Homo sapiens: one gene and its partner. The main gene of each other region encodes a partner of the protein of the gene in region 2 in a complex. Links are inferred from orthologs where the notes say so. Each region holds a gene or a part of one and is shown on either strand. Other genes may lie near its edges.

Evidence for each region. Proteins that work in one complex are often made in the same cells at the same time.
Region 1: the proteins of GIPC1 (region 2) and PLXND1 are in contact, whole or in part, in a crystal structure (PDB 5V6T), measured with the Mus musculus proteins. The link is inferred for Homo sapiens from one-to-one orthologs. Residues at the interface, in NP_061241.1 of Mus musculus: His61, Glu141, Ala142, Leu143, Gly144, Leu145, Thr146, Ile147, Thr148, Asp149, Asn150, Gly151, Phe156, Lys158, Arg159, Arg190, His191, Tyr192, Glu193, Ala195, Arg196, Leu198, Lys199; in NP_080652.2 of Mus musculus: Glu1400, Met1889, Glu1893, Arg1899, Gln1902, Gln1904, His1905, Glu1908, Ile1918, Tyr1919, Cys1921, Tyr1922, Ser1923, Glu1924, Ala1925.

The regions. Positions count from the first base shown.
Region 1 is NC_000003.12:129,561,670-129,568,689, forward strand, and holds part of PLXND1 (plexin-D1 precursor), read right to left. Parts: intron 6,137-7,020; coding exon 6,029-6,136; intron 5,936-6,028; coding exon 5,823-5,935; intron 4,963-5,822; coding exon 4,858-4,962; intron 4,349-4,857; coding exon 4,218-4,348; intron 3,870-4,217; coding exon 3,671-3,869; intron 1,572-3,670; coding exon 1,425-1,571; intron 1,275-1,424; coding exon 1,118-1,274; intron 235-1,117; coding exon 131-234; intron 41-130; coding exon 1-40. UniProt on the Homo sapiens protein: Cell surface receptor for SEMA4A and for class 3 semaphorins, such as SEMA3A, SEMA3C and SEMA3E. Plays an important role in cell-cell signaling, and in regulating the migration of a wide spectrum of cell types.
Region 2 is NC_000019.10:14,493,114-14,500,684, forward strand, and holds the start of GIPC1 (PDZ domain-containing protein GIPC1), read right to left. Parts: upstream 3,015-7,571; 5' UTR 2,924-3,014; intron 1-2,923. UniProt on the Homo sapiens protein: May be involved in G protein-linked signaling.

The sequences.
Region 1 (7,020 bases), on a different chromosome or scaffold from region 2:
TGTCTATGAGACTCATGGCCAGGGAGGCACCTTCAGGGATCTGATGGGAGGGGAGAGGCCGAGGTCAGAGGCCGGAGGTTGGGGTGGGGGCATGAGGGTGGGGAAATGGGGGCGGGGGGCAGGGCTGCACCTTGTAATGGGCCAGCGTGTTAAGCTTCTTGCGGCCGTCTTCCACCACTGAGGTGTCGTCCAGGTCCCGAAGGATGTAGCTCTGTGTGCTGGAGGCGAACCACTCTGGGGGACAAGGGACAGGCCATCAGGGTCCGGGCAGGGAGCTGGGCCTGAGGGGTAGGTACCGGCCCAGCCACATAGGGAGAGGCCTCTCGCTCTCTCCATGTAAACTGAGGCAAGCCATACCTCTCTCTGAGCCTCCATTTTCCCATCTGTAAAATGGGGAGGGCAGGAAAGAGCTGGGGGAGAGTGTGAGGGTACAAAGAGAAGGTGCCAGGGTGGAGGGCACAGAGGAGGAGCTCTGGAAATGGCCTTGTCTGCAAGGCTGTTCATGTTACAATTGCTGATGAAACCCTTGGCCTAACCAAGACTCCTATAAAACCCACTCCAGGCCCCGCGCGGTGGCTCACACCTGTAATCCCAGCACTTTGGGAGGATGAGGCAGGAGGATCGCTTGAGCCCAGGAGTTCAAGACCAGCCTGGGCAGCACAGCATGACACTATCTTTACAAAAAGTAAAATTAGCTGGATGTGGTGGTGCACTCCTGTAGTCCCAGCTACTCAGGAGGCTGAAATGAGGGGATCACTTGAGCCCAGGAGGTCGAGGCTGCAGTGAGCTGAGATTGCGCCACTGCACTCCAGCCTGGGTGACAGAATGAGATCCCGTCTCAAAAACAAACAAACAAACCAACCCTACTCCAGCATCCCTCCTTTAGGAATTAGGAAGCCTTTCCTGAAGGCTTTTTGCTGTTGTCCGTAGTTCACTCACACTGCAGGACTTGTCTCCTACAGAGTAAGAGCTTCTTGCTGAGGGGGCCTCATTGGATCCTCTCAGTGTCCCCACATTCATGCACCCATGCCAGGTGAAAGGAGTGTTTCCCGTCAAGGCAGGGGCCAGCCCCGGCTGAAGCGCCTGACACGGGGTCTCTGCCCCCATTCCCACCCACCAAGGTCGACGTCCTCTGCACGCGGCCACTGGGAGTAGGGCACATTCTTGCAGAAGGCCTCCAGGATCTTCTCCTTGACCTGTGTCAGCGTGTCGGTGTCCATGGCCCGCACGCTCAGCGAGTCCATGCCACAGCCCTGGAAGGACACGTTCAGGTTCTGCAGGGGGAGAGTGGGAGAGAAAGGTCAGTGAGTTGCTGCCATCACTATGTCAGTGCCCAGGCAGCAAGGCCCTGCAGAGGAAGGCTGGGTCAATGCCGTTGGCGGCGACACAGCAGCCCTGGGACCCTCCCCGCCCTGCCGACTTACCCGGGGCTTGGCCTCGATGTTCTCCCGCAGCAGCCACTCCTCACTGAGTGTGTAGCGGGCCTTGCCTGTGATGGCGTCGATGGAGCCCTTGTTGATTTGCTGCTTGATGGCACACAGCAGCAGGAAGAATGGCTCCCCCACCGTCTCCTGAGGGGCACGGGGGTATCAGGGCCAAGGCCCCCTCTGTATTCCAGCCCCCATGCTTTGGGCCAAACACCTTCACGCCCCCGTCCCCCAACCCCTCCAACAGTCTCCTTTTGGATCCTGGTGTCAACACTCTCCTCTCCAGGGTGTCTCCACGGACCCTAAGCTCGTGTTCATTAAACACCACCAGCTGTGGGTGGGTGCATTCATTGCATCATCCCGGCAACCCTTCCGGATACGGAGTATCATTCTTACTGTGCAGCCAACAGTGCCGAGGCTCAGAGAGGGCAAGTGACCTGCCCAAGATCACCCAGCTGGGAAGCGGCAGGGCAGGAATCGGACCTGGCTCGGCTGACTCCCAAGCCTGTGACTTTCTACTAAGTGGGGGGCCCCCAAGTGTGAGTTTAGGTGGACCCGAAACACCGATGTGGCCTCGACCCCACTTGCAGGCTGATGACTATGGAGTCTCAGGAGGAATGGGGCTCAATGTCCCTGCTCTTGCCCATCTCCAAGGGTGGCCCTCCAGGCAGTGGCTCTGCTGGACCCACAGCCATGAGCTGATTCTCAAGGCCATTGCCCAGCAAGGGACCCAGGTGTTCCACTGGGATAGTTTTACTTAACTATCCACAAAAATTGATTTAAAGAAAAATTAAGTACATAATAGTATTAGGCAGATTTGGCAAAGATTACGAAGGCAGCCTGCCAGCCCAAGTCCTGGTCCAATTCTCCAGGTCTGGGGCGTGGGAGGCACTGATTCCCTGCTTCCTAGAGGAGGAAACAGGCTCATAGGGGAAGGCCTGGCTGAGGCCACAGAAAGAAGCCAGGGGAGTGAGGTCCAGGGTCCACAGTGGCCCTTGTGGTTCCTGATGGCCCACAGTGAGGCAGCCCGCAGAAGGCGGAGGCACCCCAATGGCCCCTCCCAGGCCCTGCCTCTGCTCCACCCCACTACCCCCTTCCCCCAGGAGGAGCCGTGGGGCTCCCCCAGGCTACTTGGCCCTCAAGCCCCAGGCTCAGGGGCAGAGGCCCCATTTGACAGAAGGAAACCAAGGCCCACAGAGGGCAATGAGTAGCCCAGAGTCACACAGCTGGGCTGTGCCAAAGATTGGACTCAAGCCCAGGACATCTTGGCTGGGTGCAGTGGCTCACCCCTGTAATCCCAGCACTTTGGGAGGCCAAAGCGGGAGGATTGCTTGAGCTCAGGAGTTTGGGACCAGCCTGTGCAACAAAGCAAGACCCCCATCTCTTCAAAAATTAATAACAAAAAACAGAACATCCGAGGCCCCGGTTCTGGGCTCCAGGCAGGCCTTTGCCTTTCTCCCACAATCCTCCAGGCAGCCCTCTAGCCTCTGCCACCATAGGGCAGCTGGACAGTGGGACAGGACAAGAGGCTAAGCAACCCTTGCTCTGCGAAGAGAGCTTATGGGGGTCCTTCTGGCAGAGTGCAGGAGGCCCTGGTTACCGGGCCCACCCTCTTCCCAGCCTCCGCTCTCATCCAGAAGATTCTTTGGCCTTCCTTCTATTCCTTCCACGAACATCCCCTCCTCCCGGCCTCTGCCCTTGTGCTGTACCCGATGCCTGGAGCACCCTCCCCACCACTCCTCGCCTGGCTCACTCTCTTAGGTCTCAGCACAGGGTTGCCTGCTCCAGGAAGCCACCTTGAAGCCTTCAGACAGAGGGAGGCCTCGTGAGCTGAGCTCTGCTGCGAGGCACTGGCCACCCTGTATTTTGTTTCCACGTCTCGCCTAGCCTAGGGCTGGGAGAGCCTCAAGGGCCAGCCAGGGGCTGATTTCATCTCCTGAATCCAGAGCAGGGAAGGGTGGATGACTGAGAAAACCACAGATGGGACAAGGCCCCTGACACAACCTCTGTTATGCCCCAAGCATCCGTTGAGCCCTTGCAGCAAGCCAGCCAGGCTTCCCCGGGGCCATGGCTCCCCTCTCTGCATAACAGGTCCTACGGGCCTGGCCTGTCTCATGCAACACTCCCTCCTGGCAGAGCTGGCCTGAGGGTGCCAGGGAAGGCCTGGGAGGCCGTGGGGTCACTGCCGCTGAGTCCCTGCCACGTCCCCCGCCTGGGCTCTGTCTGTCCCCAGGCAGCCTCACCCGCAGACAGCTGTACATGCAGATGGACATCCAGTTGGTGAGCATCTTCTCCACCACAGACTCTGTGCGCCGCAGCATGAGCTTGGGGTTCTTGGCGGCCGAGGCGTCAATGAGGTCCACCAGCAGCTCCTTCATGATGCTGGTGTAGTACTCCAGCTTGCCGTGCAGCGCGATGGTCAGCAGCGAGGCCAGGCTGCACCTGTGAGCGGGAGGCAGGTGTCAACTGCACCTTGAGGCCCTAGGAGCTGTGGGTCCCAGGGTCTCAGTGCCGCCTCATCCCCGGGCCCATCGATCCCAGGAGTGCCTGTGTGGGTGGGTCCTGCGAGGGGTGAGTGGGGCTAGAATCCTCCTGGAGAAACAGCCACCTTCTTCTACGTCCACAGCAACCATCGTGCCCCGTGAGCCAAGGTCTTGGGCATCCCGGCCCAGGAAGGGCTGGAATATGGGGGTGTCAAGAGCCCCAGAGCCCCAGGACCCAGGACCTGATGCTGTGTGGCCTTGGACAGGCTCCTCTTCCCTACCCCACCCCAGTCTGTCACAGCCTGACCTGTCGCGCACCGCAAAGTCCTTCTGCTGCTCCAGCGCGTGGACAAAGACGATGAGGAAGTGCTTGTTGTTGAGTAGTGAGGAGAACAAGCTAATTCCCTCTTCCATGTTGGGCCGGCAGCTCTCAGGAATCTGTGGAAGCAACTGGTGATGGGGTGTCCAGAGGGGCCCAGTGTCCCTGCCTAGCCTAACAGCCAGTGCTTACGACGGCTGCTTGTATGCCTCCTGGGATGGGGAGCTCATTACCTTCCACGGTGGATGCCTCCTAACCTTTGTGACAGGGAACAATAGCTTGGTTGAATTGAAAAGTGGGGCTCAGAGAAGGGTAAGGGTGCCTGGAGGTAACCTGGCATCCCAGTGTGGAGGACTCTCACCTTCCATTTTCTAAGCAGGTTGAGTGGGGTGTACAGGGGGGCCCAATCCTCTGTCTGCTCTACCTGGCCTGCGGGGGCAGCACTTATAATACCCTGAATGGCTGCCTGAATGCCTCCTGGGATGGAGGGCTCAGTACCTTACAATGGCAGATGCCTCCCAACTCCGCATGACAGGGATCAATGCATTAGATGAACTGGAAAGGGGACCCAGGGGGGAGCAGGGTTGCCCTGAAGCAGCCCACTGTGTGTGGGTCGTGGGGTACTCACCTTCCACTCTCCCAGCAGTGGGTGGGTTTCCTGTGCCTGGGAGCTGCCCTGGGAGTTGAGGGTCTGGGAGGGCAGCACGTAACGCTCTTCATAAAGGGAGGAACACTGCAGAGGCAGACCCCCAGCATCTCAGCGGGGCTGGACACCCCCTGCTGGCATGGAAAGGTCACTCACACAGAAAGGGGCACTGGCTTGGGCTGCTGGGGGAAACTGGCACGGAATTAGCTCCCCATAAAGGACTAAGAGGCAGTGGGCCAAGCCTGGGGGCTGTGGAATTCCAGGGGTGTGGCCACACAAGACAGCACAAGACTTAAGGGGAAGCAAAAGCAGCTCCATGTGCAATGGGGGAAACTGAGGCAGAAAGGCTGGGAGTCTGAGCTTTAGCCTGAGGCTGGGAAAAGCTACTGGAGGGTTTCGTGAAAAATGATGTAGTCAAACATGGGCTTGCTTTGGCCACTGTGTGGGGAATGGTGTGGACAGGGGAGAGAGGGTGGTACCACTAGGAGGTAGAGTGAGGGTAGTGGACCCTGGAAGGGCAAGGGGAGGCATGAGAGGCATGGAAGGGATGGGGCAGGAGTCCAGTGGACAGGAGGAGGGAGTGTAGAGACCAAGGGAAGCCTGGCTGGGAAGAGGCACAGGAAGGAGAGAGGCTGGCCTGGGACAGCCCTGGCCGCTTCTGCCCCACCTTGAAAAGGGGAGAGGCAGGCCCAGCTGGCCAGGACAGCGGGGCTGCAGCTGGCTTCCATATGGACTGTTAAACATCAAGTGAGCAGAGAATGACAGTGGAGAATCTGCCTCCAACCCTTCTCCCCGTGGCAGGCCAGGGCAAGTGGCCAGGACGGCTGCGGACAGCTGTGCAGGTTTGGCACTGCTCAAGGGACCCTATAGGCTGGCAGGGCTCAGAGAGGTCGAGTTGCCTTGAGGTGGCTGGCACAGGTTCAGGGCAGGCTCAGGCTCGGGCTGACCTTGGGGAAGAAGGTGCGGGTCACGAAGTGCTTATACTCCAGGAAGGGGATGCCCTGGCTGCGGTTCAGCTCCTTGGTGAGATCTGTCATGTCTGTCTGCAGCTCAGCGAAGCCTGGCGGACACACGGACAGCCGTGAGCGGCCCGAGAACCCATCCCCTAGGAGGGAAAGTTGAGGCCCAGCCCTGCAGGGTCCCCGCCCACTACCTTTGCGGATTTCCTCTCGGATCTGAGATTCCATCTCCTCCATCTGCAGCAGCGTCTTCTGCCAGTAACGCTCAGCACGTCGGCTCTTGGTACAGAAGACGAACAGGGCTGCGGGCAGTGGAGAGGCAGGTCAGGCCTCTGGTGCCCTTTGGAAAGCCTTTATTGGCGCCTGCTGTATTCTGGCCTCCGCTCCAGCTCCTCTGGGCAGGGTGTGGGAGGAGGCCCTGCAGTCCTCCCTCCTGGGCAGGGTTGGGGTGGGGGGTGGGGAGTTGCGGGGAGCTCTCCCGTGGACAGAGGGCTTGGGGAATGGCCAGCAAAGCAATGCCTGATGACCCGTCCTTAGAAAAAGAAGTGTGTAGTGTTACAGCTCTGTTAGAATTTGTCTAGCCCCGTTAAAAAAAAAAAGAAACAGGAATACGTGTGTGTGAAATAGTGGTTAACAGTGGCTTTCCTGGGTGGGAGGATTCTGGGTGACTTCGGTTTACTTTCTGCTTTTGAGCATTTTCTATTCCTTCTACAATGACCAGGTGTTACTTGTAAATTAAGAAACTTTTAAAAGCAGATTACAAAGCAATATTACATTATAACCTTTCCTGGGGTGGGGAGGAATATATACATAATGTATTAAAATATCTATTAATATATAGTATTTTCAGAAAAGAGACTGGGAGGGAAGATACAAAAATACACAGGGTATTAATGATGGGTATTTTTTCCTTTTATCATCTTTCAGTTTTTCCAAAAATTTTCTGCATTGAATATACTCACTTTAAAAATAAAACAGCTTTATTGTGAAATAACGTACATACCATATAATCCAGTGATTTAAAGTGTATACTTCAATGGTTTCTTTTCTTTCTTTTTTTCTTTTGAGACAGTCTTACTCTGGCACCCAGGCTGAAGTACAGTGGCGCGATCACATCTCACTGCAGCCTCCACCTCCCAGGCTCAGGTGATCCTCCCACCTCAGCCTCCTGAGTAGCTGGGACTAC
Region 2 (7,571 bases):
CCTCCATGAAGCCTCCCAGGCTTGCCCCAGCATGCTGGAACTGCCCCTGTGGTACAGATGGCTCAGGCCCATGAACTTAATTGCATGCTGCCCTGGCAGAACTCTTGTCTTCCAGCTTCAGGCTGTCATTTAACTTCATGTCTCTATTTTAAAACGTAAACCAGATGGCATCACTGCCCTGCCTGAAACTTTACAACAGTTTCCCACCTTCTGGAAGAAAAACTGCAATCTCCTTACTGTGACCCACAAACCCCTGCAGAATCGCTGCTCTGGGTTCATCTTCTGCTCCAACCATGTGATTCCAAACTTGGTCCAGCCTAAAGACCTTGGCCTTGCCCATCTCTCTCTCTTTTTTTTTTTTCGAGATGGAGTCTTGCTCTGTCACCCAGGTTGGAGTGCAGTGGCGCCATCTCAGCTCACTGCAACCTCCACCTCCTGGGTTCAAACGATTCTTCTGCCCTAGCCTCCTGAGTAGCTGGGATTACAGGCACGCACCACCACATCCGGCTAATTTTTGTATTTTTATTTTGTATTTGTTTATTTTTATTTATTTATTTATTTTTGAGACGGAGTTTCATTCTTGTTGCCCAGGTTGGAGTGCAATGGCGCGATCTTGGCTCACCGCAACCTCTGCCTACCGGGTTCAAGCGATTCTCTCCTGCCTCAGCCTCCCATGTAGCTGTGATTACAGGCATGTGCCACCACGCCCAGCTTATTTTATATTTTTAGTAGAGACAGGGTTTCTCCATGTTGGTCAGGCTGGTCTTGAACTCCTGACCTCAGGTGATCTGCCTGCCTCGGCCTCCCAAAGTGCTGGGATTACAGGCATAAGCCACCACGCCTGGCCTATTTTTATTTTTTTTTGAGATGGAGTCTCGCTCTGTAGCCCAGGCTGGAGTGCAGTGGCACGATCTCAGCTCACTGCAACCTCCGCCTCCCGGGTTCAAGCGATTCTCCTGCCTCAGCCTCCTGAGTAGCTGGGCTTACAGGCGTGCGCCACCACACCCAGCTAATTTTCATATTTTTAGGAGAGAGGGGGTTTCACCATGTTGATCAGGCTGGTCTCAAACTCCTGACCTCTTGACCCACCTGTCTCAGCCTCCCAAAGTGCTGGGATTACAGGGGTGAGCCATGCCCCTAGCCAATTTTTGTATTTTTAGTAGAGACAGGGTTTCCCCATGTTGGCCAGGCTGGTCTCAAACTCCTGACCTCAAGCAACCCACCCGCCTCGGCCTCCCAAAGTGCTGGGATTACAGGCGTGAGCCACCGCGCCCGGGCCCCCTTGCCTGATCTTTGCTGGGCTGGCACCCCTTGCCCACAACTACTCTCTACAGTACCACCCGCTCATATTTTATTCATAGCAGTTAGTGCCATCTGAAATTATCTTCTTTATTTACTTGCTAACTTGTTTGTTGGCTGCTTCCTTCCTTTCAGAGTGCCAACTCCTCAAAAGTAGGGATTTTGTTTTGTTCACTGTTGCATTTTCTGTGCCAAGAACAGTGCCTAGCACATGCACGTAGCAGGTGCTCACTAAATATTTGTAGACTGAGTGAATGAATGTGTCTCAGGTCCTCGTTCTGATTGCTCTCTGTGCTCCCCATCCTTGAAACAGCCCCCTAAACATGCCTGCTGTGCGGTTGCCAACTGTCCTAGGCTCCCCACTTTCCCTGGCTCCCCTCACACCTGAACACAGAGATGAAGAGCCACTTCAGCCCGGATATTGAGTGTTTGGGCTGGAATTTCAGCATCCTCACCCCCTCATCCTGGGAAGGGCCTGAAACTTAGCAACCCCACGGCCACACAGAAGCAGTGTGGCCAGCAGGAGGAGGGGAAGGGGGTTCCTGGGAGCACACAGAAGCTAGGGGAAGGGGGAAACCACGCCCAGGCTCCCCGTTCCAGCACAGTGTTGCTTTGGAGAGAAGGAGGGAAAGAGGCCTCTGATTCACTCTTGAAAAACCGGCTCCTGGGTGTTTCCGGGGAGAACGCCTACTTCCCAGCCTCGGCCCAGGTTGCCAGGGGGGAACCCAGTGGGCCCAGACCCCAGCATCCTGGCCCCCTGCAGACGCCACTCTCTTCTCTGGACCCAGGTAGTTAGACCTGCCCTCTCCAGCTCTGGGGAGAAGGGAAAGGAGGGCAGCTTCCTGTTTGAGTGGCTGGTAAAGCAAAAGACCAGCAGGTGTGGCCCTGATGATGAGTACGGGGTAGGGGGTGGGAGGGGTAGGGGGCCGGAGCTACTCAGCAACAACTGAGCCGTGGAGTTATTGGTATCCAGTCTAGTGGGTGTGACTCCAGTTCTGGACCCTGGGGCATGAGTTCCAGTCCCAGATGTGCCAGTTACTAGCTGTGTGACCTTGGGCAAGTCACTCCACCTCTCTGGGTAGGCTGCCTCACCTTTTTTACAAGAAGGCACAGCACCTCCCATGAGGTGTTTAGAGTCAATTATCCTCATGGTAAATGCCTGACACGGAAGCTCTCCAATAAATGCTAGCTGAGGTGGAGTTTTTCATGACGATTATTATTCAGACCGTGGTCCTCACTGCGTCCCCCCCAAGGCCCTGGAGGGTTCAGACGCGGTTAGCTCAGGGGAAGTGCCCAGGAAAGGGTCAGAAACACTGACCCCGCGCCTGTCCACGCTGGGATGGGGACAGTCCAGCCGGGGGACGGGGGGAGGGGCAAGCCCAGAAACCCCAGCCCAGCGTTGGGAGGCGTTTGTCCCCTGCCCGCCAGCAGGAAGGGAGCTGCCCCCACCACCCCCCACCCCCGCTTCCCCTGGGAAGGGGCCTCCGGCATCCCCGCGCGCAGCCTAGACCTCCAGTCGCGTCCACGGCGCCGGCCCCACCCTGCAGGATCGGCCGGATCCTCGCAGGCCCGCGACCCCCGAGGCCCCCGGAGCAGACACATCCTTCTCGCAGAGGCCACTCACCTGCTCCGCCGCCGCCGCCGCCGCCGCCGCCGCCGCCGCTGCCTCCGCCTCCCCGTGCGCACCCGGCTCGGCCCTCCGCAAACTCCAGACCGGGCCTCTCCCGCAGCGGCGCCTGGGGGGCGGGGCCGACGCCCGCGGCCGGCCAATCAGCGGCTGCCTCTCGGTGCTCGCAGCCAATCCGCGTCTTCCGCTTCGGGTGGACCCGACGGAAACATTCCAGAGGGATCCCTCCGCCTCGCCCGGCTCTTCCCGACTCCTCCCCTCGCCGCGAAGCAGTGGACCGTTCCGCCCCGCCTAAGCCGCGGCTGGCTGTACCACCGGAGGGCTGAGGAGGGGGGGGAGCTGCAGCTGGGCCCCGGCCAATCGCGAGGGAGGAAGGAGACAAGCGGCCAATGGGAAGGAAGCTGGGGCCCCTGAACCACGTGCTGTCGGCTGAGTGTCAGTCTCGGGTGCCCTGGGTGGTGAGGGGCGGGGGAGTCAGGTGACCTAGGCCAGGTTTCGGGGAAAGGATTCGAACTTCCGACGTCCAGGAAAGCGGACAGTTTAGGAGACCTGGGTGGGGGTCAATGGCAGTCCCCAACCCAGTTCCCTGCCCGGCCTCCTCTGCCCCAGCCTGGCCATCCTCGGAGCGGATAAAAAGATGCATTCAATCTCTGGGGGCGGGCGGGGGATCGAGATGAATAGGGAGGGTCCCGAGTTTCCCTGCTTCCTGGGCTGTACAATGGACAAAGGCATTCATTCATTCATTCGTTCACTCACTCATCAAATATTTAATGTGCCAGACTGCTCCGTGCCAGACTCTGTCCTACCTCTGAAGACGCGTCAGTGAATAAGCTGAATGTGCTCCTGGTAGAGGTAACAGAGCGTGCAAAAGCCGGACAGAGAGATACAGCACGCTTTAGGATACTGCAATATCGTGGGAGCTAGTAAATCAGTGTGGAAAGGCAAGATGCAATGAAAGACAAGGGTGAGATAGTTTATCTGCTTGTTGGTTTGTTTATGTGCTAGGTCACAGAAGGTACCCAGCCAGCCTTTCATAGATCTGTCTCCTCCATCTGACTGTGAGGGTGGAGGCTGAGTCTCTCTTGTCAACCCCTCACTCCCACCTCAGGCTGCCACACGGCAGGTTCTCAGCAAACCTGTGTGGACAAATAGACCATGTAGTTTATAAGGAAGGGGGATTTATCAGGTGGACACAGATCCAAGAAACAAGAGTCACAAATGCACCTGGACCAGGCCAGGACGCTCAGTTCCCGGGACAAGTGAGATTTCCTTGTTCTAGTTCAAACCCAGCCACTTGGACAGCAACTGGGGCTGAATGCTGTGTGTTCTGGGAACTGTAGTTCCTGGAAGCCTCTAAGTGCTGAGACCCTGCTCAAGCTCCATAGAAAGACTGGTTCTTTGCAGTTCCCAGGGTGAGATGTTGTGCATATCAGTCCCACCAGGACCTGCAGAGGGGCAAACTAAAATGGGAGATGGAACCTTGAGCTTTGCTGCTGAGGATTGCCTAGCCAGCCCCACCCAGCTGGCAAACACCGAGATTGCTGTGGCAGGCCAGGCAACAGGCACAGCTATTGTCCGTCCCTTCCTGTTCTGCTGACCTCTGCCATCCCACTGAGCAATCAGTTGCCTGGGCTGGCCAGTACCCTCTGTGGGACTGTGCTGCCTGCCCTGCTTGAGCCTGGCATCTAAGCTGCCCCCTGCACACTTGGAGAGGACGGGATGCTGAGCCCAGGGGACAGCATGACTGAGGCTGCAGAGTCCTGAGCCAGACTCCAACTGGCTCCTGTTTCCTGATGAGGAAGTGCCCGGAGAAGGGGTGATGGGATTGTGGGATTGCTCAAGACACAGAGCAGCACTGGGCACCTCCTTTCTGAATTTTTTTTTTTTTTTTTTTGAGACAGTGTCTAGCTCCGTTGGCCAGGCTGGAATGCAGTGGCAGGATCTCAGCTCACTGCAACCTCCACCTCCTAGGCTCAAGTAATCCTCCCATCTTAGCCTACCGAGTAGCTGGGACCACAGGCATGTACCACCACACCTGGCTAATTTTTGTTGTTGTTGTTGTTTGTTTGTTTGTTTTTTTGAGACGGAGCCTCACTCTGTCACCCAGGCTGCAGTGCAGTGGTGCAATCTCAGCTTACTGCAACCTCCGCTTCTCAGGTTCGAGCAATTCTCACGCCTCAGTCTCCTGAGTAGCTGGGATTACAGCGTGCGCCATCATGCTCGGCTAAATTTTTTGTATTTTTAAAAGAGACGGGGTTTCGCCATGTTGGCCAGGCTGGTCTCGAACTCCTGGCCTCAAGTGATCCACCTGCCTCGTCCTCCTGAAATGCTGGGATTACAGGCATGAGCCACTGCACGCAGTCTATTCCTTTGTTTGTCTGTTTGTTTGTTTTGAGACAGAGTTCCACTCTTGTTGCCCAGGCTGGAGTGCAATGGCGCAATCTCGGCTCACTGCAACCTCCACCTCCCAGGTTCAAGCGATTCTCCTGCCTCAACCTCCTGATTAGCTGGGATTACAGGCACCCGCCACCACATCTGGCTAGTTTTGTATTTTTAGTAGAGACAGGGTTTCATCCTGTTGGCCAGGCCGGTCTCGAACTCCTGGCCTCAAGTGATCCAACTGCCTCATCCTCTCAAAATGCTGGGATTACAGGCATGAGTCACTGTGCCAGGCCCATTTGTTTGTTTTTTGATAGAGACAGGGTCTCACCATGTTGCACAGAGCTGGTCTTGAACTCCTGGGCTCAAGCCATCCTCCCTCTTTGGCCTCCCAAAAGTGCTGGGATTACAGGTGTGAGCCACCATGCCCAGCCCTCCTTCCCGATTTTATAGCTCAAGAGGAATGCCTAAAAGCTGAGGCTGGGAAGTCCAATGGTGAGCAGCTTAGATGTGAGCGCTACCTCTGTTCCTTTAAAAGAAAAAAGAGGCCGGGTGCAATGGCTCACGCCTGTAATCCCAACACATTGGGAGGGTGAGGCGGGCGGATCACAAGGTCAGGAGTTCGAGACCAGCCTGGCCAACATGGTGAAACCTCGTCTCTACTAAAAATACAAAAATTAGCTGGGTGTGATGGTGGGCGCCTGTAGTCCCAGCTACTCAGGAGGCTGAGGCAGGAGAATGGTGTGAACCCGGGAGGCGGAGCTGGCAGTGAGCCGAGATTGCGCCACTGCCCTCCAGCCTGGGCAACAGAACGAGACTCCGTCTCAAAAAAAAAAAAAAAAAAAGAAAAAGAAAAAACAGAAAAAAGAAAAAAATTCCATCCTTGAATGCCAGCTAACACATGCAGAAGGGAAGGTTGTGTGCGTTAGAACATCATTGTTTTGCTGAGTGCAGTGGCTGCAGCCTCTAATCCCAGTGACTTGGAGGCTGAGGCTGAAAGGATCCCTTGAGGGCAGGAGTTCGAGACTAGCCGAGGCAACATAGCAAGACCTCCATCTCTACAAAAATGGGTGTGGTGCTGTGTGCCTGTAGTCCCAGCTACTCGGGAGGCTGAGGCAGGAGGATCACTTGAGCCCAGGAGTCGAGGCTACAGTGAGCTATGAGCTACAGCTTCCTATGTGCCAGGCATCATTCCAAGAACTTCCTATTTATTAAACCATGTAACTCTCCTGATGACCTAGGTGCAGTTTTACACATTGTATATTTGTCCTCCCACTCTGTCAGGGGAAAATTTGCTTCACCCATGATATCCTTCATTGGAGGGAAATTCTTAATTTTGATATAATAGAACTCACTGTGAAGTTATATTAAGAATGCTTGGCTGGGCACACTAGCTCATGCCTGTAATCCCAGCACTTTGGGAGGCTGAGGCAGGTGGATTGCTTGACACCAGGAGTTCAAGACCAGCCTGGGTAACATAATGAGACCCTGTCTCTACAAAAAATAATAAAAATTAGCCAGAAAAGGAGGCACTGGACTATAGTCCCAGCTACTCAGGAGGCTGAGGTGGGAGGATCACTTGAGCCCAGGAGTTCAAGCCTACAGTAAGCTATGATCACACCACTGCATTCTAGCCTGGGTGACTGAGCAAGACCCTATCTCCCAAAACAAAACAAAAGAAGGCCTTTTCATCCCTATATGGCAAACTTATACTTCCACATTTTCTTTATTTTTTTTTTGAAACAGAGTCTCACTCTGTCACCCATGCTGGAGTGCAGTGATGTGATCTCAACTCACTGCAACCTCCACCTCGCAGGCTCAAGCGATTCTCACGCCTCAGCCTCCCGAGTAGCTGGGATTAGAGGCATGTGTCACCATGCCTAGCTAATTTTTTGTATTTTTTAGTGAAGACCGGGTTTCACCATGTTGTCCAGACTGGTTTTGAACTCCTGGCCTCAAGTAATCCGCACGCTTTGGCCTCCCAGAGTGCTGGGATTGCAGGCATGAGTGAGCCACCGCACCTGACTCTTCCACAGTTTCCTTTTTTTTTTTTTTTTTTGAGACGGAGTCTCGCTCTGTCTCCCAGGCTGGAGTGCAGTGGCACGATCTTGGCTCACTGCAAGCTCTGCCTCCCAGGTTCATGCCATTCTCCTGCCTCAGCCTCCCGAGTAGCTGGGACTAGAGGCGCCCGCCACCATGTATGGCTAATTTTTTGTATTTTTAGTAGAGACGGGGCTTCACCGTGTTAGCCAGGATGGTCTTGATC